Linked DNA regions of Homo sapiens. The protein of the gene in region 1 interacts with the protein of each later gene in a pairwise test. Each region holds a gene or a part of one and is shown in the gene's direction. Other genes may lie near its edges.

Evidence for each region.
Region 2: the proteins of MX1 (region 1) and KLHL35 interact in a two-hybrid assay, tested with the Homo sapiens proteins (one study listed by BioGRID).
Region 3: the proteins of MX1 (region 1) and SLC25A3 interact in a two-hybrid assay, tested with the Homo sapiens proteins (one study listed by BioGRID).
Region 4: the proteins of MX1 (region 1) and ZNF251 interact in a two-hybrid assay, tested with the Homo sapiens proteins (one study listed by BioGRID).

The regions. Positions count from the first base shown.
Region 1 is NC_000021.9:41,429,208-41,436,243, forward strand, and holds part of MX1 (interferon-induced GTP-binding protein Mx1), read left to right. Parts: intron 1-1,325; 5' UTR 1,326-1,401; intron 1,402-2,823; exon of another isoform or gene 2,824-2,842; 5' UTR 2,843-2,863; coding exon 2,864-2,968; intron 2,969-6,629; coding exon 6,630-6,822; intron 6,823-7,036.
Region 2 is NC_000011.10:75,423,174-75,430,209, reverse strand, and holds part of KLHL35 (kelch-like protein 35), read left to right. Parts: coding exon 1-461; intron 462-1,583; coding exon 1,584-1,768; intron 1,769-3,571; coding exon 3,572-3,690; intron 3,691-4,628; coding exon 4,629-4,817; intron 4,818-6,329; coding exon 6,330-6,518; intron 6,519-7,036.
Region 3 is NC_000012.12:98,603,686-98,606,903, forward strand, and holds the end of SLC25A3 (solute carrier family 25 member 3 isoform b precursor), read left to right. Parts: 3' UTR 1-2,682; downstream 2,683-3,218. UniProt on the Homo sapiens protein: Inorganic ion transporter that transports phosphate or copper ions across the mitochondrial inner membrane into the matrix compartment. Mediates proton-coupled symport of phosphate ions necessary for mitochondrial oxidative phosphorylation of ADP to ATP.
Region 4 is NC_000008.11:144,752,515-144,759,782, reverse strand, and holds the start of ZNF251 (zinc finger protein 251), read left to right. Parts: upstream 1-4,251; 5' UTR 4,252-4,378; intron 4,379-4,406; exon of another isoform or gene 4,407-4,979; 5' UTR 4,980-5,054; coding exon 5,055-5,087; intron 5,088-5,461; coding exon 5,462-5,591; intron 5,592-5,986; coding exon 5,987-6,100; intron 6,101-7,268. UniProt on the Homo sapiens protein: May be involved in transcriptional regulation.

The DNA.
Region 1 (7,036 bases):
ACCGGTTTGAACTCCCGAGATTGCCCTGCCCCTGAAATCCAAACTGATGTTCCGAATGATCAGGGAAAGGTACAAACGTTTATGGTTTACAGACAAAACCCATAAGGTTTAGCTTTCAGAGAATCTCATTTTATGAAGCAAATTAGGGAAGGGAATCTACTCACCAAGTCCTGTTTCAGCTGATTGAGTGGAACCTGTGGTCATGTGGTACAAGTCCTGGTCTCAATGATGCTCCTTATCTGGCTGCAGAAAGGCCAACTGAGGCAACCATAGCCCAGAAGACTGGTACTCCTGAGAGGCAGATGAAGTGGTGGTCTTTGATATCGAGCCTGGGATGCCCTGGGCACATGAGGTATTTCCAAAGGCATGGGAGTTTTAGGGAATAAATTCCCAGATTGTCAGACTCCATAAGTACCGTTTACAATGGATTACCTTTTATAACCATCCCAATCCTACCTGACAAAAGAGGTGGGCAGATTACGAGGTCAGGAAATTGAGACCATCCTGGCTAACACTGTGAGACCCCATCTCTACTAAATAAATACAAAAAATTAGCCGGGTCTGGTGGCGTGCACCTGTAGTCCCAGCTACTTGGGAGCCTGAGGCAGGATAATCGCTTGAACCCGGGAGGTGGAGGTTGCAGTGAGCCAAGATTGCGCCACTGCTCTCCAGCCTGGTGACAAAGCGAGACTGTCTCAAAAAAAAAAAAAAAAAGAAAGAAATACATCCCTTTCTTCCCTTCCAAATCGAGCAAGGATGCCTGCCCTGGAAGTGTATAAACCCGGGGAAGGGAGACAGAAAAGGATAGTTTTAAGTATTGGTGTTGGGGACGTGTTCTTTAGCCAAGGCAGCATGAACCCATGGCAGCACTTCCCAACCTTCCTGACATGGGCGTTTCTGTGAACTCCAGTGTGATGGAGAAATGGCATTGGCTCAGGTGTGCAGCTAGATATGTTACAGAGCAGGGTGACAGGCAGGGGTGATGAGTTTTGTTTTAACAACCTGTCCCTTCAACCCTCATGGTACTGACAAAGATCACATGGCTCTCGGGGGAGATTCCTGCGAGGGGAAGCAAGGAGAGCATCCTTACATATTATTGATCCAGGCAGCAGATTTGCAGCAAAGCTCTGTGCTTTATTCATCTGTTAAAATAGTTAAAATAGTCAAAACATAGGAAAAGGATTCTGGGAAGTCAGAATCGGCTTCAGAGCACACCCCTCCTGCACTTGCCCGGTTCTCAGACTTGGGAATGGGACTGGGTGGGTGGGTACTCTCGGGTGTTCCGCGGGTTTGGGTCTTACTTGTACACTTTGCTTGATTTCAAGGAGGTGCAGGAGAACAGCTCTGTGATACCATTTAACTTGTTGACATTACTTTTATTTGAAGGAACGTATATTAGAGGTAAGTTGGTGCATGCTATTTTCTGTAACATTTATTTTGAGTCATAGGAGAAAGATTTTCAGTTACTTTTATCCAAGATTATTAGACACTGTAAAATTTCATATTTAGGCACTTGTCCTACAACATTTTAAAAATGAATTTCAAATACATACGTGTGTATTTGTAATGCAGACAAGTATAAGGCAGTCAGTTACATGCTTTCAAGAGTAAAATGAATGACATTTCATTTCCCCCATTTGTGGGAGTAAAAGAATGACAATATGAAATTGATGATCAAAAGAAAGAGCATAAAAGATTTAGAGCTCACGTGTTTTTTAAACTAAAGGTTTGGGTATCAAATTACCGTAATATTTGGATTCTCTTGGCTACATTGGAAACAGTTCTATAACAATTTTATTTTTAAATGTAAAGTTTTTGTTTGTTGTTGTTTTTAAGACGGGGTCTCGCTCTGTCGCCCAGGCTGGAGTGCAGTGGTGCGATCTCGGCTCACTGCAACCTTCACCTCCCAGGTTCAAGTGATTCTCCTGCCTCAGCCTCCCAAGTAGCTGGGACTACAAACACACACCACCACTTCCAGCTAATTTTTGTATATTTAGTAGAGATGGGGTTTCACTATGTTGGCCAAGCTCGCTTCGAACTCCTGACCTCAGGTGATCCACTCACCTTGGTCTCCCAAAGTGCTGGGTGGGATACAGGCGTGAGCTACTGTGCCCAGCCTTTAAATGTAAACTTTTTAATTGTATTACAACTGCATCAGAAGTTGTATACTTTGCAACTATTCAAATTTATACTGAAAACGTTTTTGAAGTTCAACCTAAAATTATGACAGGAGATAGTTTTAGAAAATATTTTGGGGAACAGAGGCATATTCTATTTTTTTTTTTTGAGACAGAGTCTTGCTCTGTTGCCCAGACTGGGGTGCAGTGGCGTGATCTCAGCTGACTGCATCCTCTGCCTGCCAGGTTCAAGCAATTCTTTGCCTCAGCCTCCTGAGTAGTTGGGATTACAGGTGCCCGCCACCATGCCTGGCTAATTTTTTTGTATTTTTAGTAGAGACAAGTTTTACCATCTTGGCCAGGGTGGTATTGAACTCCTGACCTCATGATCTACCTGCCTCAGCCTCCCAAAGTGCTGAGATTACAGGCGTGAGCCCCGGGGCCCGGCCTGGAGGGATATTCTTGAAGCGCCTTGAGCAGGGAGGCAGCGTTTGTCTTTATCTGACCTTGGCTTCTTTGGGTCACTCTGTTTCTCTTTCCGTGAATAAAAAGCCAGTGAGCACACACTGTGTCCCAGGCACTCTTCTACGCTCTGGGGACATCACCATGAACAACTAGTCAGAGTCCCCACCTCCAGGGGCCTTCCGTTCTGGTGGTGGGTTTGGTTCCATGGTTGAATGCACCCAGCTGCTTATCTGTTCAATAGGCATCTGCTTTATTTTAAGCTTACTTTGCAAAGAAGGAAGATGGTTGTTTCCGAAGTGGACATCGCAAAAGCTGATCCAGCTGCTGCATCCCACCCTCTATTACTGAATGGAGATGCTACTGTGGCCCAGAAAAATCCAGGCTCGGTAAGTTGCTCTCTGAAAGTCGCTATCCATGTGACATGAGCCATGCCCATTCGAGGCTGCCCTTTTCTACAGCGGTGCTACTGCTGCCCAGATATGCCTGCTCTCTCGCCTCTCCTGTGCCAGGACGCAGATCCTGACCCTCTACTTGCCAGCTGACAACCATGTATAGACTCGTTGCCTTAGCTCACCGTGGGTGGAGGTGCTGCTGGGGTTGGGGACACTGGCTGAGCTGTCGATGGGTTCAGCTCATCTATACTAGAAGGAACTGGCCCAGGCCCTGGGTTCAAGGAGCACTAGGTTTGTTTTTCCTGCCCACATCATGATTCAGTCTCAAGCTACAAACCCTGGGGCATCATTAAGATATTATCTTTGTAGGGAAGCCACGTGGTGAATTTTTTGCCCAGAATCAAGACATATTTTTGGTGGGAACCAATCATGGCCCCTGGAATCAGTCCAACCTCAGTTGGTCCCGACGCTGACACTCTCAGCTGTGTGATTGTGGGTAGTTATTCCTCCTGTTATAAGCCTGGTTTTCCATATCTAAAATGAGAATAATGGTCTTTGCTTTATATGGCTGAGAGCAAAGTGCAGGGAGTGTCCAGGTACTCAGAGTGCTCAGTTTCTTATTACCGTGGATCACTGGTCTGTTTCAGGCTGGCTCTGTTTTCCTAGGCAATGTTAAACAATTTTTCAAACAATATTCAAAAAACATTGAAGCGTTTAGAAAAATACAGAGGACCACCACCTTTCCACCACCCTGATACCACCGTTTACATTTTTCTGCATTTCCGTCCCTGGTGCGTCTCTTGTCTGGCTGTAAGAGATGTAATTATGTCAGGGTATGGGGCAGGAGGAACTCTCACCCACTCATACTTGCGTGCTTTGGAAGCAGCTTGGCCTTTTCCAGTCAAGGAGAACAGAGTGTGTCTCGTGATCTGGCAGTTCCACTTCTGGGGATAGACTGTGGTTCTCAAAGTGTGGCCCCCAGCCCAGCCCATTAGCATCACCTGGGAAGTTGACTGAAATGCAAATGACCAGCCCCTCCTCCCACTCTTAGACCTGGTGAATTGGACACTCTGGGGCAGGGCCCACCCCCTGTGCTTTACCAGGCTCTCCAGGTGATTCTGCTGTGTGCTGGAGTTTGAGGACCATGTGTAAACCCTTGCACATCCCCCTGGGAGCCACATGCATAGCAGCACTGTTTATAACAGCAAAACTCAGACCCTGTCTACGTGCCTGTCATGGTGGAATGGATACTGGGAGTGTGGTATGTTCATGTAGCAGAATTCTATACAGTAGTAAAGAGGAATGAACTAGAGTTCCAGGTATCAAAATGGCTGCATCAAATGAACAACGTTGAACCAAAGAATCAAGTTACAGGAAATATACAAAATGATTCCACTTACGTAAAATTCCCCAACAGGCAGCAATAGGCAATATACCATTGTGGGAAAAACATATAGGTGGCAAAACTATAAAGAAAAGCAAGGATGTGATGATTGCAAGCCTCAGGATAGAGGGACCCTCTGGAGGTGAAGGAGTTGACCCAGGGAGGTGTGTGCAATGTCCTAAGTACTGGGAGTGTTTGTGTTCTTAACCCAAGTGGTTGGTACATGCATATTTGCTTTATTATGTTTGACACACTTTTGTAAATAGATAGTATAAATAAATGAAAACAAACAAAAAGTTATAAGGTGAACTAAGACCGAGGCTACCAACTGTATTCATGCATTTGGTAAGGCTGTGGTTCTTTCTCAGTCAGGGCCCATTTTGCTCCCTGGAACTTGTGGCCAGGTCTAGAGACATCTTGGTTGTCACAACTCAGGGTGAATAGTGAATAGAGGCCAGGTATTTGGCTAAACCTCCTACAATGTGTAGGGTAGCCCCTGCAACAAACAATCTTCTAACCCCAAATATGAATAGCTTCTTGTCCTGTTATAAAGAAGCTATTCTAGTAAAAACGTCTGTCTATGATGAAGCATGCACAAAAATAGTCATTAGAAAGAGGTAAAAGACAAAATGATTTTCTCATATTTTCTTCCTGAACCTCAATCAGCCCACTTTAGGAAAATTGCACCCAGCTGCTGGTAGGTAGGCAGGACCGAGTGTGAAGTCTGCTGCTTTCTCTGTTTTTATGCAAGTACTTCACTATTTTGATTACTTTAGTTTTATAGTAATTATGGAAATTAGGTAATGCTAGTCCTCTGACTTTGTTCTTCTTTTTCAAAGTCATTTTGACTAAGAATATTTAGATCATTTCTATTTAATGTGACTGGTAATATAATTAGATTTGAGAATATCATCTTGCTATTTGTTTTCTATTTGTCCCGTCTGTTCTTCGTTCCCCCTTTCGTCTTTTTCTGCCTTCTCTTGGATTATTTTTTATGATTCCATCATGTCTCCTTTGTTGTCTTATTAAGTATAACTCTTGGTGTTTTTAGTATATATCTTTAACTTAATAAGTCAACCTTCAAGTGATAGTCTGTCACTTCATGTATAGTGCGAGAACCTTAGAATAGTGTATTTCCATCTCTCTGCTCTGAGCCTTCATACTATTTCTATCATGCATCTTTTACATACATCATAAACCCCACAATACATTGTTATTATTGATGTTCAAACATTCAATTATCTTTTAAATAAAGATAGCAAAGGAATACAAAAAAGTGTAGTAGTTACCCCTTCTAGTATAGACTCCTTTGTATAGATCCAGATTTCCATTCAGTATCATTTTCCTTCTACCTAAAGAACTTCTTTAACATTTCCTGTAGTGCAGGTCTGCTGGTAATGAATTAGTTAAGCTTTTGAATGGCTAAAAAAGTCTTTGTTTTGCCTTCATTTTTAAAAGTTATTTTTGCTGGGTATAGAATTCTAGATTGATGGTGTTTTTCAGTACTTTAAAAATACTGCTTCACTGTCTTCTCGCTTGTTATTGCTTCTGATAAGATTGACAGCAGATTTCTCATTTGTGTCCCTCTGCTCACACTGTATCATTCTCTGGCTGCTCCTAACATTTTCTCTTTATTACTGGTTTTGAGCAATTTGACCCTCTTATGGCTTGATGATGTTTATGTTTGCTGTGCTTAATGTCTGTTGAGTTTCTGGGATCTTTGGGTTTATGGTTTTCATTAAGTTTGAGGGAATTGTATGTATTATTTCTTCAAATATTTTTTTCTGTCTCTCTTCCATTCTCTTTTGGGGATTCCAGTAACCTGTGTATTAGACTTATTGAAGTTGGCCGTCTTTAATGGAGTGTATTGGTTCATTCTCACACTGCTATAAAGAACTGCCTGAAACTAGGTAATTTATAAAGAAAAGAGGTTTAATTGACTCACAGTCCACATGGCTGGGGAGGCCTCAGGAAACTTACAATCATGGAGGAAGGCATCTCTTCACAAGGTGGCAGGAGAGAGAATGACTGAAGGAGGAACTTGCCAAACACTTATAAAACCATCAGACCTCATGAAAACTCACTATCATGAGAACAGCATGGGGGAAACCTCCCCCACAATCCAATTACCTCCACCTGGTCTCTCCCTTGACACGTAGGGATTATGGGGATTACAATTCGAGATGAGATTTGGGTAGGGACACAGAACCAAACCATATCATGAGCATGATTTGCAGGCCATGAAGAATTCTCCATTTTTGTTTCCTCCAGGTGGCTGAGAACAACCTGTGCAGCCAGTATGAGGAGAAGGTGCGCCCCTGCATCGACCTCATTGACTCCCTGCGGGCTCTAGGTGTGGAGCAGGACCTGGCCCTGCCAGCCATCGCCGTCATCGGGGACCAGAGCTCGGGCAAGAGCTCCGTGTTGGAGGCACTGTCAGGAGTTGCCCTTCCCAGAGGCAGCGGTAAGAACTTACATTCTGTGTTAGTCTGCTCAGGCTGCCATAACAAAATACCACAGACAGGGTGGCTTATACAACAAAAGTTTATTTTCTCACAGTTCTGGAGACTGGAAGTCCAAAATCAGGGTTTAGCTTCTCCTGAGGCCTTTCTCCATGGCTTGCAGATGGCCACCTCCTCACCGCTCCCCCATGCGGCCTTCCTTCCACACACAAGCAT
Region 2 (7,036 bases), on another chromosome or scaffold:
GCCTGCGTGCGCTTTCTCGAGGGCCGCCTGCGCGCCGCCAACAGCCTAGCGCTGCGCCGCGTGGCCGCCGCCTTCTCGCTGGCCCCGCTGGCCGAGCGCTGCGGCCGCGTCCTGCGTCAGGCCTTCGCCGAGGTGGCGCGCCACGCCGACTTCCTGGAGCTGGCGCCTGACGAGGTGGTGGCGCTGCTGGCGGACCCCGCGCTGGGCGTGGCGCGCGAGGAGGCCGTGTTTGAAGCGGCCATGCGCTGGGTGCGCCACGACGCGCCGGCCCGCCGCGGCCAGCTGCGACGCCTGCTGGAGCACGTGCGCCTGCCGCTACTGGCGCCCGCTTACTTCCTGGAGAAGGTGGAGGCGGACGAGCTGCTGCAGGCCTGCGGCGAGTGCCGCCCGCTGCTGCTCGAGGCTCGCGCCTGCTTCATCCTGGGCCGCGAGGCCGGTGCGCTGCGGACCCGGCCGCGGAGGTAGGGCCGCCATCCCCTAGCTTCCCGCCCTCCGTTCTTCCCGCCTGCTTCCACCGCTCATTCATTCTTTCATCATCTTTTAGTACTGCCTCTTGATGATATTCAGTCATTCGTTCAACATTTTAGAGGCTCGGTGCCCATAATTCTGCCCTTGAAGAGTTAACAAGCCAGTGAGGGAGATGCAGAGACCCCACAGCTGCGCACACTCTCTTTGGCCCATGCAACCGTAATTCCGAGTACTTACTACTCTACGCAAGTTCTGTGCAGGGTGCCGGGATGCGGAAGTGATTTGAAAACACTCTTTGCCCTCTGGGAGCTCGCAGTCTAATGAGGGATAGAAATAGGCAGGGGCATGGGGAAGTAGTGAAAGCAGCCTGCCCCACCTTTGGAAAGCCAGACTGGGAGGCTCTGGGCAGAGTAGCCCTTAATCATGCCCCCAGAGACGACACTCTCTCTAACACTAAGCACAGGGCCTGGGACAGAGATCCTCAAATATGTGCCAAAGGAATTAGAAAACCAATGGCTAAAAGGGTATGGAAATTCTGGTGGCGTCAGATGGTGGGGTCAGTGAGAGGGAAGAATGATTTACTGAAAGGGTGAGTTATCCGGCTTAATGGAATTAGGGATGAGGGGATGTCATAGGAGGAGGGAGGCAGCAGAATCAGCGGTTGGAGGTGAGAAAAGGGTGTTGAAGATGAGTTAGCGACAGACAAACCTGGGCTTGAATTCCAGCTCTGACGCTTAATGGCTTTGGGCACGCCATGGTATGTGAGCCTCAGTTTCCTCCCCTGAGAAAGGGGTAATAATCCCTACTAATAGAACTGCCATACAGATTAAACGAGGTGATTTTTCTAGGTGAGGGCAAGGGCTCTGTAAAGATTTTTTTTTCTGTAGTTTAGAGGTCAGCAGAATGCGGTAAGCATTAGCGATTCTCTTCCCAGTACCCACAGGCAAAGTTGGAAGTGGCAGGGTCTAGCGGGATTGAGGCCGGGGGATCGGGTGGGCGGGGGTGATGGCAGAAACGCATGAAAGGGCAGCGGGACCGTGCAGTGTGGTCGAGAGGGTAAGAGAGGGCCGAACTTGGGTGCGGCCCAACAGGCACTGGGCTTATCCGCACGCCAGATTCATGGACCTAGCTGAAGTGATCGTGGTCATCGGCGGTTGCGACCGCAAAGGTCTCCTGAAGCTGCCCTTCGCCGATGCCTACCATCCAGAGAGCCAGCGGTGGACCCCACTGCCCAGCCTGCCCGGCTACACTCGCTCAGAATTCGCCGCCTGTGCTCTCCGCAATGACGTCTACGTCTCCGGTGAGGGCGGAGCCGCAACGGGAGCTCACACGGGATTGACTAGTAGCCTCCGCACTCCACCCCCTTTGCTTTTCCCTCCAATCGGGAGAGAGGGGCGGGATGTTTTCTGATAACCTACAGTTATTGGCTGAAGTGAGCAGGGCTAACTACGCGTGTGACCCGCCCTTTATTCAGGAATGTTAACTTCAATACATATGATTACTTTTTGTTCTGAACCGGCTTCCTAAGGAAGTCAATTCGTATTAGTATTAATAATCACTTCAACTAGCCTACTATGTGCCGAACATTATGCTAAGAAGCTTACATTCGTTATCATTAAATCCCCCTACAATGCTGTTTTACAGATAAGAAAGGCTCGGAGAGGCTCAGAATTTCCCCCATTGTCTCAAAAATGGCAAAGCTAGGAGGAACACACATCTGTTTGATACCAACAAACTGTGTCCTCCCTAAGGCTCAAGCCCTAAAGACTCAGAGAAGCATAAAACACAGTCCTTGCTCCCCTGGAGTGTCCTGGAGAGGAGAGAGACTTCACTTTTACTGCCAGGCAGAATGTGATCAGAATTCTCAGAGTCCCCAGATGATCTGGAATGCCACTCAGGGAATCTAGCCAGGGTTCATAGAAGAGATGACTTTTCAGCTGGACCTTGAAAGTTGGAGGGAACAGTATGGGCAAAGGCACAAGGGCAGGGACATGCAGAAAGGAACCCTGGGGACTCAGGGCTCTGAAGTGCAGGTTGAGTATCACAGGTGAGGCAGGAGTCAGATCAGGGAGGCTTTGAGTCTGGGGCTAGGTGGATTGACCTTAATGTTGTAAAGAACTATGGGTGCCTGCAAAGAGTAAGGAGCAGGAGAATAAGCCAGGGAGGCCTCACAGACCATCCAGGCCACAGATTACCACTGGACAATTTATCCAAGGCCATTGATGGCTCTGAGCAACATGTGGGGCCTTTGTTGGGTGCCACTAGGAATAAACAAAGATGGGGCTACCAAACAGATGTGGCTCTGGTCACAGGCTCAGGCTGAAGGGTGCAGTTAGGGTTGTCCCCAGGGAGGCTCCCATTGAGAGGTGAATCCCTGGCCAAGATCCCCAGGGTGGCCAGACATGGGAAGGGAGAGTCCACATCCTGCATCCCCAGTACCTGGCCCCATAGGGCATGCCATGTCCTCCAGCAGCACCAATGCTGGGCCTGGAGCCAGAAGCTCTGGTTCTGGCTCTGACAAAAGGCCATGTAGTCTTCAGCAGGTCATTGTTGGTCTCTAAGTCTCATCTGAGTTTCTTATATGTAAACTGGGTCTAATATTCCCAACACCTCATGGAGGGATGAGATCAGAAATGAAATTGTGCAGGTGAAGGCAGAAGGGAGGGAGGGTTATTGGGTCACCCTCTACCTATCCTGGCTCCCAGTGCAGCTGGCTCTGCTTTTCCTGGATCCCCAGTACATTCCAGATGCTTGCCTTAGGTACCCTTTGTACTCTTACCTTTAGTACAGCGGCCCCCTCTTTGCTTTCCTGAGCACAGAGCCTGGCACACCACCACCACCACCACAAGGTGCCCGGCGAAAACCAGCCCCTTCTTCCTGAATGTGTCAGGCTTCTCCCCTCGAGGGTCGTAACTCAGACATTCCCACCACTTATTCAAAGCACACTGGGTCACAGGTCCAGAGTCTTACACCAGCTCAAGAAGTCCTCCTGCTGCCTTCCCTTAACCCTTCCTTTGGATCTGGGGGCCCTAGTTTCTAGCTCTTTGGGGGTGCTTGGGATAGCAAGAGAGCCGATGGGCAACAGCTGCTTCTCTCTCCCTAGGAGGCCACATCAACAGTCATGATGTGTGGATGTTTAGCTCCCATCTGCACACCTGGATCAAGGTAGCCTCTCTGCACAAGGGCAGGTGGAGGCACAAGATGGCAGTTGTGCAGGGGCAGGTAGGCACGAGCTGCAGCGGCTGCCCTGGGACACAAGGTACAGATCTGTGGATGTGCTGGAGGGAGGTTCTCTAAAACCCTCTCTTTGTAAGAAGGGGTCTGAAGCCCCCCAAAAAAGGAGACTTGTCCAAGGTCACATAATAATGGCTGATGCTAATAATAATAGCAATTACTGTAATAGTAACAGCCTGATGGTCAAGGGTATGGGCTCTGGGGCCATAGAGTCTAGGTTTGAATCTTGACTGTGCCACTCAAGAATAAAAGAATCTGTCGGCCGGGCGCAGTGGCTGTAATCCCAGCACTTTGGGAGGCCAAGGCGGGCGGATCACGAGGTCAGGAGATCCAGACCATCCTGGCTAACACGGTGAAACCCCGTCTCTACTAAAAATACAAAAAATTAGCTCGGCGTGGTGGCTGGTGCCTGTAGTCCCAGCTACTCAGGAGGCTGAGGCAGGAGAATGGCATGAACCTGGGAGGCGGAGCTTGCAGTGAGCCCAGATTGCACCACTACACTCCAGCCTGGGCAACAGAGCGAGACTTTGTCTCAAAAAAAAAAAAAAAAGTCAATTATCTTTGTAAGCTACATCCCGAATTCAGAAACAAAGATGCTTCTTAGAATCAATTAAGTGGGGTGGTAAAGTCTCAATACTAGCTATTATTATTAAGCATCAGCTTGGTGCCAGGTATTTTACAGCTGTAACCATGCAGGTTAAGGTCTCATCCCCGCTAAATGAGAGGAAACCGGCTCAGGGAGGTACAGCAACTGGGTGGAGGCTGCCCAGGTGGTGGCAGCACTGGGCTCGGGGGTCAGTTTGGTCCTGAAACTGGGTTGGGGACAGGGATAGTTTCCAGCTCAAAGACTGTAAGGACTGAAGCGATGAGGCCGAGGGCCCTAAGGCCCTGGCACCCGGCTCCCCGGCCCATGTCCTCACTTGCAGCTGTTCGCGGTGGGTGGCTTCGACGGCCTGAGGCGCCTGCACAGCGTGGAGCGCTACGACCCCTTCTCCAACACCTGGGCGGCCGCCGCGCCCCTCCCGGAGGCCGTGAGCTCGGCGGCGGTGGCGTCCTGCGCGGGCAAGCTCTTCGTGATTGGGGGCGCCAGGCAGGGCGGCGTCAACACGGACAAGGTGGGCGTGGGCCTCAGGCGCGAGAGGGCGTTGAAGGCTGGGGTGCCCACTGTGTGCCAGGCGCAGAATTGGGCGTTTCCATGCCCTTGTCCATTTATTCACTTAATCCCATCAACAGCCCAGACCAGTCACCTCCATGTTTCAGGGAAGGAAATGAGCAGAAAAATGACCCCAAGGTCACACAGTGGGTCAGCAGCACACTGGGACTCAAATGTTTGGGCTGGTGCCATGTAAGTTTCATACATTTTAAAAATTGAGGGCAAGATAGTTAAAATGCTTTTGTTCCATTCCAAAAACAATACACTTACTACTGAAAATTTAGAAAACACAGAAAAATAGAAAAAAAAAAAACCCATAATCCCACCGTCTAGGCAGAGCTGCTATTCATATTTTGGTGTGTTGCCTTACAGGCTTCCACTGAATTGATTTTTGTTTTTCTTACAGTTTTGTTTTGTTAGAATTTTGCATTCTGCATTTTATTCTAATTTAGGTATGAGCATTTTCCACGTGATTATCAACTTTACAGCCATCATTTCAATGTCTGTACTATTCCACATGGTGGATGAACTAGAGTCTACTCATCTTTTATTGTTGGGACATTTAGGCTTTTTGCAAATAAAAATATTTATCATAGCAGTTCCTTCCCTCCCCTGATGGCCTCATAAGCCTGTGGTCCTAGGACTTGACTCTTTCCCAAATTAGGGTGCCCACGCTTCCTTATTCCCTGACCACATTCTTCCAGCAAACCCTCCTGGAGCTGAGTGATAGGCACTCATGGTGGGAGGCCCCATTTAACACCATCCATGCAGCACTGATTTGTTATAGGCTGCTGTGGGGGGAGGGGGTCTCCAAGGAAACAGTTGAGGAAACAGAGAGTGAGGTGAGCAGGCAGCTAAATACAGAAACTGTTAAGGGCATCAGAAACACCCATGGGCATGTGGACAGCTGTAGAAATAGGGCTGCAAGACACCTCAGCTAGAATCTAATGACCTGAGAGCACCAGGAAAAGAGAAGGGAGTTGACAGTGTATGCAGCTAGGAACACATCCCCGTCGGGGGTCTGCTCTGAGGACCCTCTATAACCCTAAAGCAGACAGTACCTCTCCCAGCTCAGTATGATGTGCTCTATGATTAATCTAACATGAGGCGACTGTGTTCTCCATCAAAGGAGAGACTGTTCCTGTGTGTGTGTGTTGAGGGGTGAGGGGAGGGGGGAACACCAGGGAGACCTTTAAGGATGGGGTGGCATTTGAGCAGGACCTCGAAAGATGAGGAGGCTTTTGACAAAGGGAGTCCAGAGGCAGAGGACAGAACATAGAACTAGATGAAGAGCCCTTGAGGGCAGGGACGGTGGACCTCCCCCTCCCTCCCAGATGCTGGCTCAGGCCTGGTGGACACTGGCAAATGTCGTTTTGAATGAGTGCCCCCGGGGGGAGAGGTGGCAGCATGTGGGCGGTGGGGCATTTGTTGGGGGGGGCGGTGAGTCTTCACCACTGCTGCTCTTGCCCCTCAGGTGCAGTGCTTTGACCCCAAGGAGGACCGGTGGAGCCTGCGGTCACCAGCACCCTTCTCACAGCGGTGTCTCGAGGCTGTCTCCCTTGAGGACACCATCTATGTCATGGGGGGTCTCATGAGCAAAATCTTCACCTATGATCCAGGCACAGATGTGTGGGGGGAGGCAGCTGTCCTCCCCAGCCCTGTGGTAAGTGGAGGCTTCAAGGCAGGAGAGCGGAACCCGCTTCTAAGGCTCTGGATCTTGGAGCTTGTGAATCTTGTGACTCCATCCTAGGTGGTTTTATTATACATCACTCTCTAGCTCATCCTCACAGTGATAGTGAACCATGCATTTCACAGATGAGGAGACTGGCCTTAGAGAGGTTCAGCACCTGGCCCAGGCCAACAACTAGGCCCTGTTAAGGCAGAGCCTAGAACCCTGCAGTCCCAAGTGCTATAGCTTTGAGTGGGGATTTGGTCCAAATGACCCTGTGGTCTCTCCTGCCCCGAAGGCCACTGCTAGTAACCAATCATGAGGTAAGATGTGGGGAAGGGAGTTGCTAAGGTCTGCTCTAGTGATATCAGAGCAGGGAGGCCCAAGTCCTGGAAGCTCTGGCCCCTGCAATTCCCTGCCTCCCCTACCTTCTTCTCCATCCCCTGAAACTCCAGAGACTACACAGATATGGTTGGACTGGAGGTCTCTGCCAGTTCTGACCTTTGGTGACC
Region 3 (3,218 bases), on another chromosome or scaffold:
GGCATTGATACAAAATACGCTGTGTTCAAGCTATGGAGCCTGCCACTGTAGTTACTAGAGTTACGGTTCAAAGCTATTTCTGAGAGAAAGCCACTTCATCCTCAAAACCCAAGAGGCCCACTTAAAGTGATGCGAATTCTCATTTCAGGTTTTTAAATTATACTAAAAGATTCTAGTAAGAAAATTTTAATATGTATGTATTGGTGTTCTTTTTACATTTCATTTAATGAAATGTCTACTGTCAATACGATAAAGCAGAACCCAGTGGAGTAAGAATACACGAAACTGCCAGGCACAGTGGGTCATGCCTGTAAACCCAGCATTCTGGGAGGCCGAGGCGGGTGGATCACCTGAGGTCGGGAGTTCAAGACCAGCCTGACCAACATGGAGAAACCCTGTCTCTACTAAAAATACAAAATTAGCTGCGGTGGTGGTGCGTGCCTGTAATCCCAGCTACTCAGGAGGCTGAGGCAGGAGAATCGCTTGAACCCGGGAGGCGGAGGTTGTGGTGAGCCAAGATTGCGCCATTGCACTCCAGCCTGGGCAACAACAGCGAAACTCTGTCTCAAAAAAAAAAAATATATATATATATATATATATATGAAGCTGATAGTTGAATTATGTTGATTCAGGGACAAGATAGCATTGCATAGTAACTTCCAGTAGGATCAAATATTTTGAGAGTGGTTAAAACGCCAAGGAATCCTGATTTTATGAAATTATGCCTTCTGATAGGTGCAACAAAATTGAACAGAAGAGTAACAGCTTAACTAAACCTCCATTGTGTGAAAGTTTTATGAAATGTTTTGACTTTTTTTTTTTTTTCCCTAGAGAACAGGGTTCTTGCTTTGTCGCCCAGGCTGGAGTACAGCCTTGAACTCCTGGGCTCAAGCGATCCTCCTGCCTCAGCCTCCCAGTTAGCTGACACAATTGGGATGTGCCACTACTTGCTCCTGTTTTTTCATAGACGGGTCCTGCTGTTGCTCAGGCTGGTCTCGGATTCCTGGCCTCAAGCAACTTTCCTGCCCCAGCTCCTAAAGCGGCCAGGGTTACAGGTAGCCGCCTTGTCTGTCCCGTTTCGACCATATTTTATTTTTGAGAAGGTCTTGCTCTGTCGCCAGACTGGAGTGCAGTGGCACGATGATAGCTCACTGCAGCCTCGATCTCCCAAGCTCAAGTGATCCTCCCACCTCAGCCTCTTGAATAACTGGGACTGCAAGTGTGGACCACCATGTCTGGCTAATGTTTTTTATTTTTAGCAGAAATGAGGTCTTGCTATGTTGCCAAGGCTAGTCTTGAACTCCTGAGCTCAAGCGAGCCTTCTGCCTTGGCCTTCCAAAGGGCTGGGATTAGAGGGCTGAGCCACCACACTTGGCCAACCATATTTTATTTTTTATATTTTTATTTTATTTGATCCTTGTTCTGAAACCATAAAGTGAGTTTAACATTTCTGGCTGGGCACAGTGGCTCATGCCTGTAATTCTAACACTTTAGGAGACCAAGGCAGGAGGATGCCTTGAGCCCAGGAGTTTGAGACCATCCTGGACAACATAATGAGAAAAGAAAATACAAAAATTAAGGGGTGTGGTGACACATGCCTGTAGTCTCAACTATTTGGGAGGCTGAGGCAGGAGGATTGCTTGAGCCCGAGAGGTTGAGGCTACAGTGAGCCATGTTTACGCCATTGCAGTCCAGCCTGGGCGACAGAGTGAAACCCTGTCTCAAAAAAAAAGTAACATTTCTATATGATTTTTGGGATCGACATGTCCATAATGTTAATGAAGCGCATAGCAGTCACTAGTAAATTAGGAGTTATACATTGCTTCTATAGCATCAGAAATTGTATATCAGGCCAGGTGCAAAAGCTCACTCCTGAAATCCAAGCACTTTGGGAGGCTGAGGTGGGCGGATTGCTTGAGGTCAGGAGTTCAAGAACAGCCTGGCCAACATGATGAAACCCCAGGTCTCTACTAAAAATACAAAAATTGGTCAGGCATGGTGGTGCATGCCTGTAATTCCAGCTACTCGGGAGGCTGAGGCAGGAGAATTGCTTGAACCCGGGAGGCAGAGGTTGCAGTGAGCCAAGATTGTGCCACTGCACTCCAGCCTGGGCGACAGAGCCAGACTGTCTGAGGAAGAAATTGTATATCAGGCTGGGCACAGTGGCTCATACCCGTAATCCCAGCACTTTGGGAGGCCCAGGCTGGGTATCACTTGAGCCCAGGAGTTGGAGACCAGCCTGGGCAACAAAGTGAGACCCCTCTCTCTACAAAAAATAAATTAGCCAGGCATGGTGGCACGTGCCTGTAATCTCAGCTACTTAGGAAGCTGAAGGAGGATCGTCTGAGCCCAGGAGTTTGAGGCTGCAATGAGCTACAATCACACCCCTGCACTCCGGCCTGGGCGACAGAGTGATAACCTGTCTAAAAAAATAAAAATAAATTGTATAATCATATTGCAATTTTCTTTGCATTACTGATGAGGAAAAATCTCAAAGTAATTGTAAAAAATCCTGGATATCACATAGTTGAGAAACAAAGTTATTTTAAACTTACAGGACTCTGTAGTTCACAGTTGAACACTGTGGCTTCCTGAAATATCAAAGAATAATGTACATTAATAAGCCAGCTACTATCGGCATCTTGTAAAAATTAAAAAATTAAACATAAATAAAAGTTCAAACTATGTGTTGAATCATTTGTCTTTTACAAGCCAGCCCTGACTTCACATTCTCAGAGGTGTTCATAGAAGTGCATGAGATGTTAACCTCACCACTGATAAGGTTTATGAATCTCCTGGTTATTAAGGTGTGACCTGACAAGTTTCCTAGAAAGCAGCTATTCCAGAGTTTTCATGTGTGTTTTTATAGACACTGAAGTGCAGTATGCAATAGTCACTTAATAAGTATTGCTACACTGAATGAAAGAGCCTTGGGGATGTGTCTCTTACACAAGATATAATTCCTACCTAATACTGTGAATAATAATTTGATGTTCAAATCAGCCAGCTTGCTTTGCAGAATCCAGTGTATTGCAAAGTTTGAAGATGGAAAATAATTCATGTGACAGGCCATATCATTATTCCAAGACCCATGATCTTAACACTAGAGGGCTATATTAGTCAAGGTTAAAACTGCTAAATCTCAAGGAAGCATTAACATCTGAAAATATGGTATACCCAACTTTTACTCATGGATAAGTTTGACGGTAAAATGTCAT
Region 4 (7,268 bases), on another chromosome or scaffold:
GGTCCCTGACTTCCCGCAACAAGGTAGCTCCCGCCCCTCCAGCTTCTTTGTCCTTCCAATCTTCCTGGGATCAGACGGAATGCACTGGGGTCTGCTCTTTGCCATGGCAGAGGCCTCTACATATGACTGGGAGGGTCAGTTTCTCATGACAGTTAGCAGGCGCTTGTGGCTGCAGATGCAAAATCATGGTCCCTAATCGGCTTTATTATTATTTTATTTATTTTATTTTTAGAAATGGGTTCTCACTATGTTGGCCAGGCTGCCTGAATTCTGGTGTTTTTGTACGTGGAAACTGGTGATGCAAGTACTGAATGTACCTCAGGCAGCTGGAGGAAGATACAGACGGATTGCCATCCGTCCCCCAGGTTAAGGATTCCCAATGAAGTCACTCTCTTCCCACCACTCCTCCTGAGAGGGTACGGTGGAAGGAAGGGTCTGAATTTTCCTCCCCAGAATTTCCCAAGACACAGGTATATTTGTCATGAATGTGAGGAGTGAGAACAAGGGCCTGCCCCGGCCCCCAGTCTGATTGCCCTCTCCGGCACTGCTTGCCGTGGGTGTTAGGCCCGCTTAAATTTTTGTTGTTGTTGTTGTGGTTGTTCTTCATGGAGTCTCGCTCTGTCGCCCAGGCTGGAGTGCAATGGTATGATCTCGGCTCACTGCAACCTCCACCTCCCAGGTTCAAGCGATTCTCCTGCCTCAGCCTCCCGAGTAGCTGGGATTACAAGCGTGCACCACCACACCCGGCTAATTTTTTGTAGTTTTAGTAGAGATGGAGTTTCACCACGTTGGCCAGGCTAGTCTCAAACTCCTGACCTCAGTTGATCCGCTCACCTCGGCCTCCCAAAGTGCTGGGATTATAGGCGCGAGCCACCGTGCCCAGCCAATGGGTAAATATGCTGAGTATGTATTTCTAAAGGTTTGAACACAGAAGAAAGGTCTGAGATGGAATTTTTTTAAGTGGGGTAATTTACATGTAAGTAGCAGTTGAAGAAATGAGACAAGGTAAGCTCTCTTAGAGGAAAATGTAGAATAAAGTAAGGAGAATGCGCAGGGCAGACACTGAGTAGAGGAGAAAGTAGCAAAGGAGATTGAGAGTGGTTGGCAGAAAATGAAGGAAGGGTGGTATTATTGATGATAAGGAAATCAAGTGTTCCAAGAAGGACAGACAGTTCATGGTGTCAAATATTGCTGAGAGGTCAAGTAAAGGAAAACTAAAAAATGCCCACTGGTGGCCAGGCACTATGGCTCACACCTGTAATCCCAGCACTTTGGGAGGCCAAAGCAGGTGGATTACTTGAGGTCAGGAGTTTGAGACCAGCCTGGGCAACAGAGCAAGACCCTGTCTCTACCAAAAAAATACAAAAAATTAGCCCGATGTGGTGGCACGCATCTGTGATCCCAACTACTCATAAGGCTGAGGTGGGAGGATTGCTTGAGCCCGGGGAGGTGAAGGTTGCAGTGAGCTGAGATTGTGCTACTGCACTCCAGCCTGGGTAACAGAGAGAGACCTTGTCTCAAAGGAAAAAAAAAGCCCACTGGTTTTAGAAACAGGGAGGTCAGTGGAGTAGGGAACAGCTCTGTTCTGGGCCCTGAGGACCTTGGACATCTTCACATAGCTGTGTGGCAAGGTCCATCACCGTGTGAACTGAGTTTGGCAGAATGCTTGGAGGTTCCTCCTGAAACTAAGGGAGACAAGCAACCTTGTAAGAAACGACAGTGACAGCAGCGCCCCTGGGCCCCTGGTTGGCTGCGTCTGGGATGCTCCCTTTGCCCCTCCTTGGGGTACAGCTGCGGACACACCACTGCCTGGCTGCAGTGTGGAGCTGGCGCCTCAGCAGCACCGTGGCCACCATCTGTGCTTTCTGTCATCTGGCCCCTATGGTTTGCTGTCATCTTGTGTGTCTAGGGACACAGGCTGCTGATCATGCTGTAGCTGTTTGAGTAAGAAATAAACAATCTAGGCTGGGCACAGTGGCACACACCTGTAATCCTAGCACTTTGGGAGGCCGACGCAGGTGGATCACTTGAGGTCAGGAGTTTGCCACCAGCCTGACTAATATGGTGAAACCCCGTCTCTACGAAATACAAAAAAATTAGCTGGACATGGTCCTGCATGCCTGTAATCCGAGCTACTTGTGAAGCTGAGACAGGAGAATCACTTGTACCTGGGAGGTGGAGGTTGCAGTGAGCCAAGATCTCACCATTGCGCTCCAGCGTGGGCAACAAGAGTAAAACTCCACCTCAAAAAAAAGAAAGAAAGAAACAATCTCTATCTTTTGTGCTCATTGCTGATCAAATCCATGTAAATATGGCAAACCAGCCTAGCATCTGTGGCAGTTGACGCCGGTAACCCTGTCAGCTGCTGGATTGCTGCCTAGGGACTGCTTGGATGCTTGGCAGTTGGTAGCCCTGTAAATAGGAAATATCCATTAGGAGAGCCTGCAGCCACCAGTCACAGAGTGATTACACGCCCCCTGTAGGAGATGTGAAAAAGAAAAAGAGGAAATCAAATATTCTGCAATCTTACAACTAGTAATGATGTATTTATTTTCAGCTTTTTATATACGTTTTTCAAGCACTTCCCAAGTATTTATAGAGTACTTACTATGTTCCAGGCTGGTGGCTGAGCAGTGAACAAACCAACCTAGGTCCTTATATCTGGAAACCTTAAGTTTGTGAACTTAAACACCCATATATACAATTGAGATCATATCATAAATATAATTTTGTATTCTATTTTTCACATTCTATTTCATAAGCATTACCCTCTGCCAATACTTTTTTTTCAAATACCACACATAATGGCTGCATAATGTTCAACTGAGTGTACAGAAGACAATAGATTTATCTATTTCTGTGCTGCAAAAAGCATAATTATCTTCCATTTCCCCTTCTATGAATAACTAGCTATTTTCCAAATTCTCCCCATTATTTAAAAAAAACCACACACACAACAAACTCTGGAATGGGCACCCTTCTCTTTGTCATTTTTGTTATTTCCATAGGATAGATTCCTAGATTAATTGAAGTGTTTAAGGCTCTTTATGTACAGCTTAATTCATTTTCAACATTGTACTAAACACGCTTCCTCAAGCATAGCAGTGCGTAATTCTCCACAATCTCCCCAGCACTGATATTAATAATGTAAGGCATCTTCTTAATCATGTGTGACTTTGCATGGTGCTTTAGACTTCTAGACATTCTCCATCCTCGTTGATCGTCTCAAGTTCAGATATAAAATTTCTGCCTTGATTCTAACACAGTGTACAGGGCCTACACTATATTCTGGGTGACAAGATGGCTTGGCTTTCCTTTCCTTCTCCCCCTGCTCCTAAGCTGGTCTCCTCACCTTTATCAAGTGCTATTTTTTCAACCATGCTTTATTGTGTAGGGGCCAAAGGGAAAGTTCCTCTTTGCCCTCTGAAGGTTCACTGAAAGCCAACTCATAAAAGGCAGATTTTTGGAGAAAAGGCAAATAAATGGATTATTTATTTATTTATTATTTATTTTTGAGATGGAGTCTCGCTCTGTCACCCAGGCTGGAGTGCAGTGGCGCGATCTCGGCTCACTGCAACCTCCGCCTCCCGGGTTCAAGCGATTCTCCCGCCTCAGCCTCCGGAGTAGCTGGGACTACAGACGCCCGCCACCACGCCCGGCCTTTACCGCCAGTTTTCACACAGAAAAGCGGGGGGAACATCAGAGTCGTGTTTTTAGGTTTTGTGGCTGGCTTTGGGGGTCTGGCCTCTGGGACTCGCCTTGGGTAAAAGGGATTCACTCTGTGAGGAGCCTCGCGGGAGAAAAGAACTGAGACTGGAGGCCTGGGAAGGTCAGAGGGAAACTGCCTCCCAGGCCTTCATTTTGGGGCGTTGTGTTCTGAGCCCCGATAATTGTAACATCTTCATAAGCGACTTTCTGGTGGTTATGGTGAATCGGGACACACGATGTATGGTGACCGACGGGGGAGCCGGGAGCCCAGCGGGGTTAGGGTTCAGGTGAGGGTTTAGGGTCGGGGCGAGCGCGGCGCGGCCCGGATGCGCAGCGTCACCGCGCCAGACCCTCCGCTCAGCTGCCGTGGGCTCTCCCCCTCCCCGACCATAGACGGCGCAGGCCTCCAGTCATCCCAGAGCGGCCCCGGAAGAATCCGGGCGGAACCGCGGCTGGCTTCCGGTTCCCGGCGTTCTCGGAGGCGTACTGAGGCCCCGCAGGGGGCGGGGAAGCCTGCGTGTGCGCAGCTCGGCCCGGCCCGCCCTCTTCATCCTAGCCCGCCCCCTCCCCGGCTCTGGACCCGGTTCTGTGGGAGGGTCCGTTCCGGGCTCGGTGCGACTGCGCAGCTCCTCGGCGCTTCCTCGGTGGCTTCCCCGGGTCGAGCAAACAGGTGGGGCAGTGTCGGACCAGGAAGGAGCGCCAAGCGGGCAGGCAGGCGGGGAGGGCGCGGGGAGGGCGCGGGGAGGCGGCGGCCAGTCCAGGAGGAGCCTGTTCTGGGTGCCGCGGGAGCCACCGACGGGCTGCAGAGGCCGGGAGGAGGCGACCGCGGCGCGGCCCTAGAAGGCTGGACTGAGGACCACAGCTGGCTTCCGGCCTCTCCCCGGAGCCTGGGGCCTTCGGCAGCATCCCCGCGGCCTCCTTCTCACGTCCTCAGCCTTGGTGAGGCTGCACCCTCACGTGGCTCTTTGCCCCAGGTTGGCCAGGCAGGTAGAACGGCCCTGCACCCCATTTCCAGGGCCTTCAGCAGGTCTGGACCACGGGAACTGCCAGCTTTCACCCCTTAGCCGGGCGTCCCTGGATCCCCCCGGGCTCTGGCTCTGGCCGTTCTGGGATTTCAGGAGTCACTGAGCAGTAGGGCACGTCGGCCCGTGCTGCATAGTGACCTGCCTCCCGCGACCCAGGAGGCCACAGCAGCAATCAGCTTCTGCCTCCTGGCCATCCTTCCACACCCCTGGTTGAATGGGGCTGAGCCTGAGTTCTCCCCACTGAAGGTAAGTTCGGGGAGACTTCAGGCCAGGGCAGTCTCCTGTCTTCTCTTGGAAACCACAGCAGCCCATGCACACAGAATGGCAGCCACATTCCAGCTTCCAGGGCACCAGGTGAGTTAACCCTCCTTCCTGCCCACCTCTTCATCTTCATCCCCATCCCAGTCAGAAGCTACTCTCCTCTGGAGCCGTGAGCCCGGCAACTGGTAAGGCCAGCCAGGGGCTCATAGCAACCGTGAGGAAAGGGTTCTGAGAGGTAGACTCGCCCTCCTGCAGGGAGAGGGGCTCTGAGCTCAGCTGGGTCCCCGTGTAGCTGAAGTTGGCTGGTCCTCAGCGCTCTCAGCTGCCCCATCAGGGACCTGCTGATACACAGTTCATACTGACCACAGCAGGGCCCTGGGTAGTGGGGCCCCACCAGGTCAGGGCCCTTTTAGTGCAGGCTGCTGCCCCGTGGGCATGGCCTGGGCAGCGGCGATGTTTTGTTGCAGGAGATGCCGCTGACCTTCCAGGATGTGGCCGTGTACTTCTCTCAGGCGGAGGGGCGGCAGCTGGGCCCCCAGCAGCGGGCGCTCTACCGGGATGTGATGCTGGAGAACTATGGGAACGTGGCCTCTCTGGGTGAGGCTCTCTGCACTTGGCCTGGTTCGCAGTGGGGGCCTCTGAGGAGCTTGGGAGGCTGCTTTGGCTCTTTGGATCCCAAAGAAGAGGGTCCTGCCCCTTGTCCCCGGGTATCAGTCTGATCTCTACAGAAGGAACATTTCCCATGGGAAAAGCCTGCCTTGCTCCCCAGTTCTAGGGACTTCACTCCCTGTTGCCAGTGGCCCCACTGGTGTCCCTCCAGTGGCAGGAGAGCTGATGAGTGGATTCTCCTTCAGTACTTAGTCTCAGCCCACGGGCCCCCTGACCAACACACGTGCAGGCGTACACACGTGCACACAGGGCCCATCTCTCCACACCTGGCCTGGAAGGCCCAGTGGGCCATGCCAGCTCACCAGTGTCCTCATCCTCAACAGGATTCCCTGTCCCTAAGCCGGAGTTGATCTCCCAGCTGGAGCAGGGGAAGGAACTTTGGGTCCTGAATCTTCTGGGAGCTGAGGAACCAGATATCTTGAAAAGCTGCCAGAAAGGTGAGAATGGATGGGATGCTAATCCTGGGAGCAGCCTCCCAATCCTGCCTTAAGAGGCTCCAAGCGAGGGACAGCTGGGGCATGGCGTTCATATTAATGGCCTCCCCCAGGGGCAGTCTCACAGATACAGCCCCTCTACAAATGTGAGCATGTGCACATGCTTTAGAAGTTTTATCTTGCTGGTCTGTTTCTTTGCTTTAAAAATATATATATACTACTTCTGATCATATTTTTGTTTTGGTGATTTACCTTGATAACAACTTCATTCCCTTCTTTATAATACACTTATTTCCTTTTGACAATAGATATCGGTACCCTACCATGTCCTTTTTATTCTTCACTCCATTCTCTCCTTCATTTGCCAAGTTTAGTCAGTAGTAGTCTTTTTTTTTTTTTTTTTTTTTTTTTCGAGACAGAATCTCACTCTGTCACCAGGCTGGAGTGCAGTGGCACGATCTCGGCTCACTGCAACCTCCACGTACCAGGCTCAGGCAATCCTCCCACCTCAGCTTTCCAAGTAGCTAGGACTACAGGCACATGTCACCATACCTGGCTAGTTTTTTTTTTATTTTTGTTGAGACAAGGTTTCACCACGTTGCCCAAACTGGTCTTAAATTCTTGAGATCAAGTGATCCATGTCGACCTCCCAAAGTGCTGAGATTACAAGCATGAGCCACTGCACCTGACCAGTGGCTTTTTTTAATGTTTACCTTTGTTCTATTGAATATACATCTACTACTTGATATGTCAGCTGTAAGTATTATCTTTGACTGCCAGCTACTGAGACAGTCAACAAGCTTGTTCTACTTTTCTCCCTTTTCCTCCTCATTCCTTTCCCAGTTTTTGTTGGTTATATTGTTTCTACACTGTCAGAACATATAACACTTTACAACTCATATCCGCAGCTTTGTTACTGGCTTATATCTCCAGTTAAGTATGTTATTAATAATTGTTTATCTCTGGTCCTTTTACCAAAAATTTCCCCATCTCTTGGTTGGCTGGAGCTTGTCTTCTAGTTTATTCAGAAAGGCTCGTGAAAAATATACCCCATATTTGTGCACATTCAAAATTGGTTGAATAAAGCATTTGGTTTCTACATGTAAGAGCTAAGATTGTAAAATTATATCGTTTTCTCAAAGTGCAGCTTAAGTTGCATCTCACAAAATTT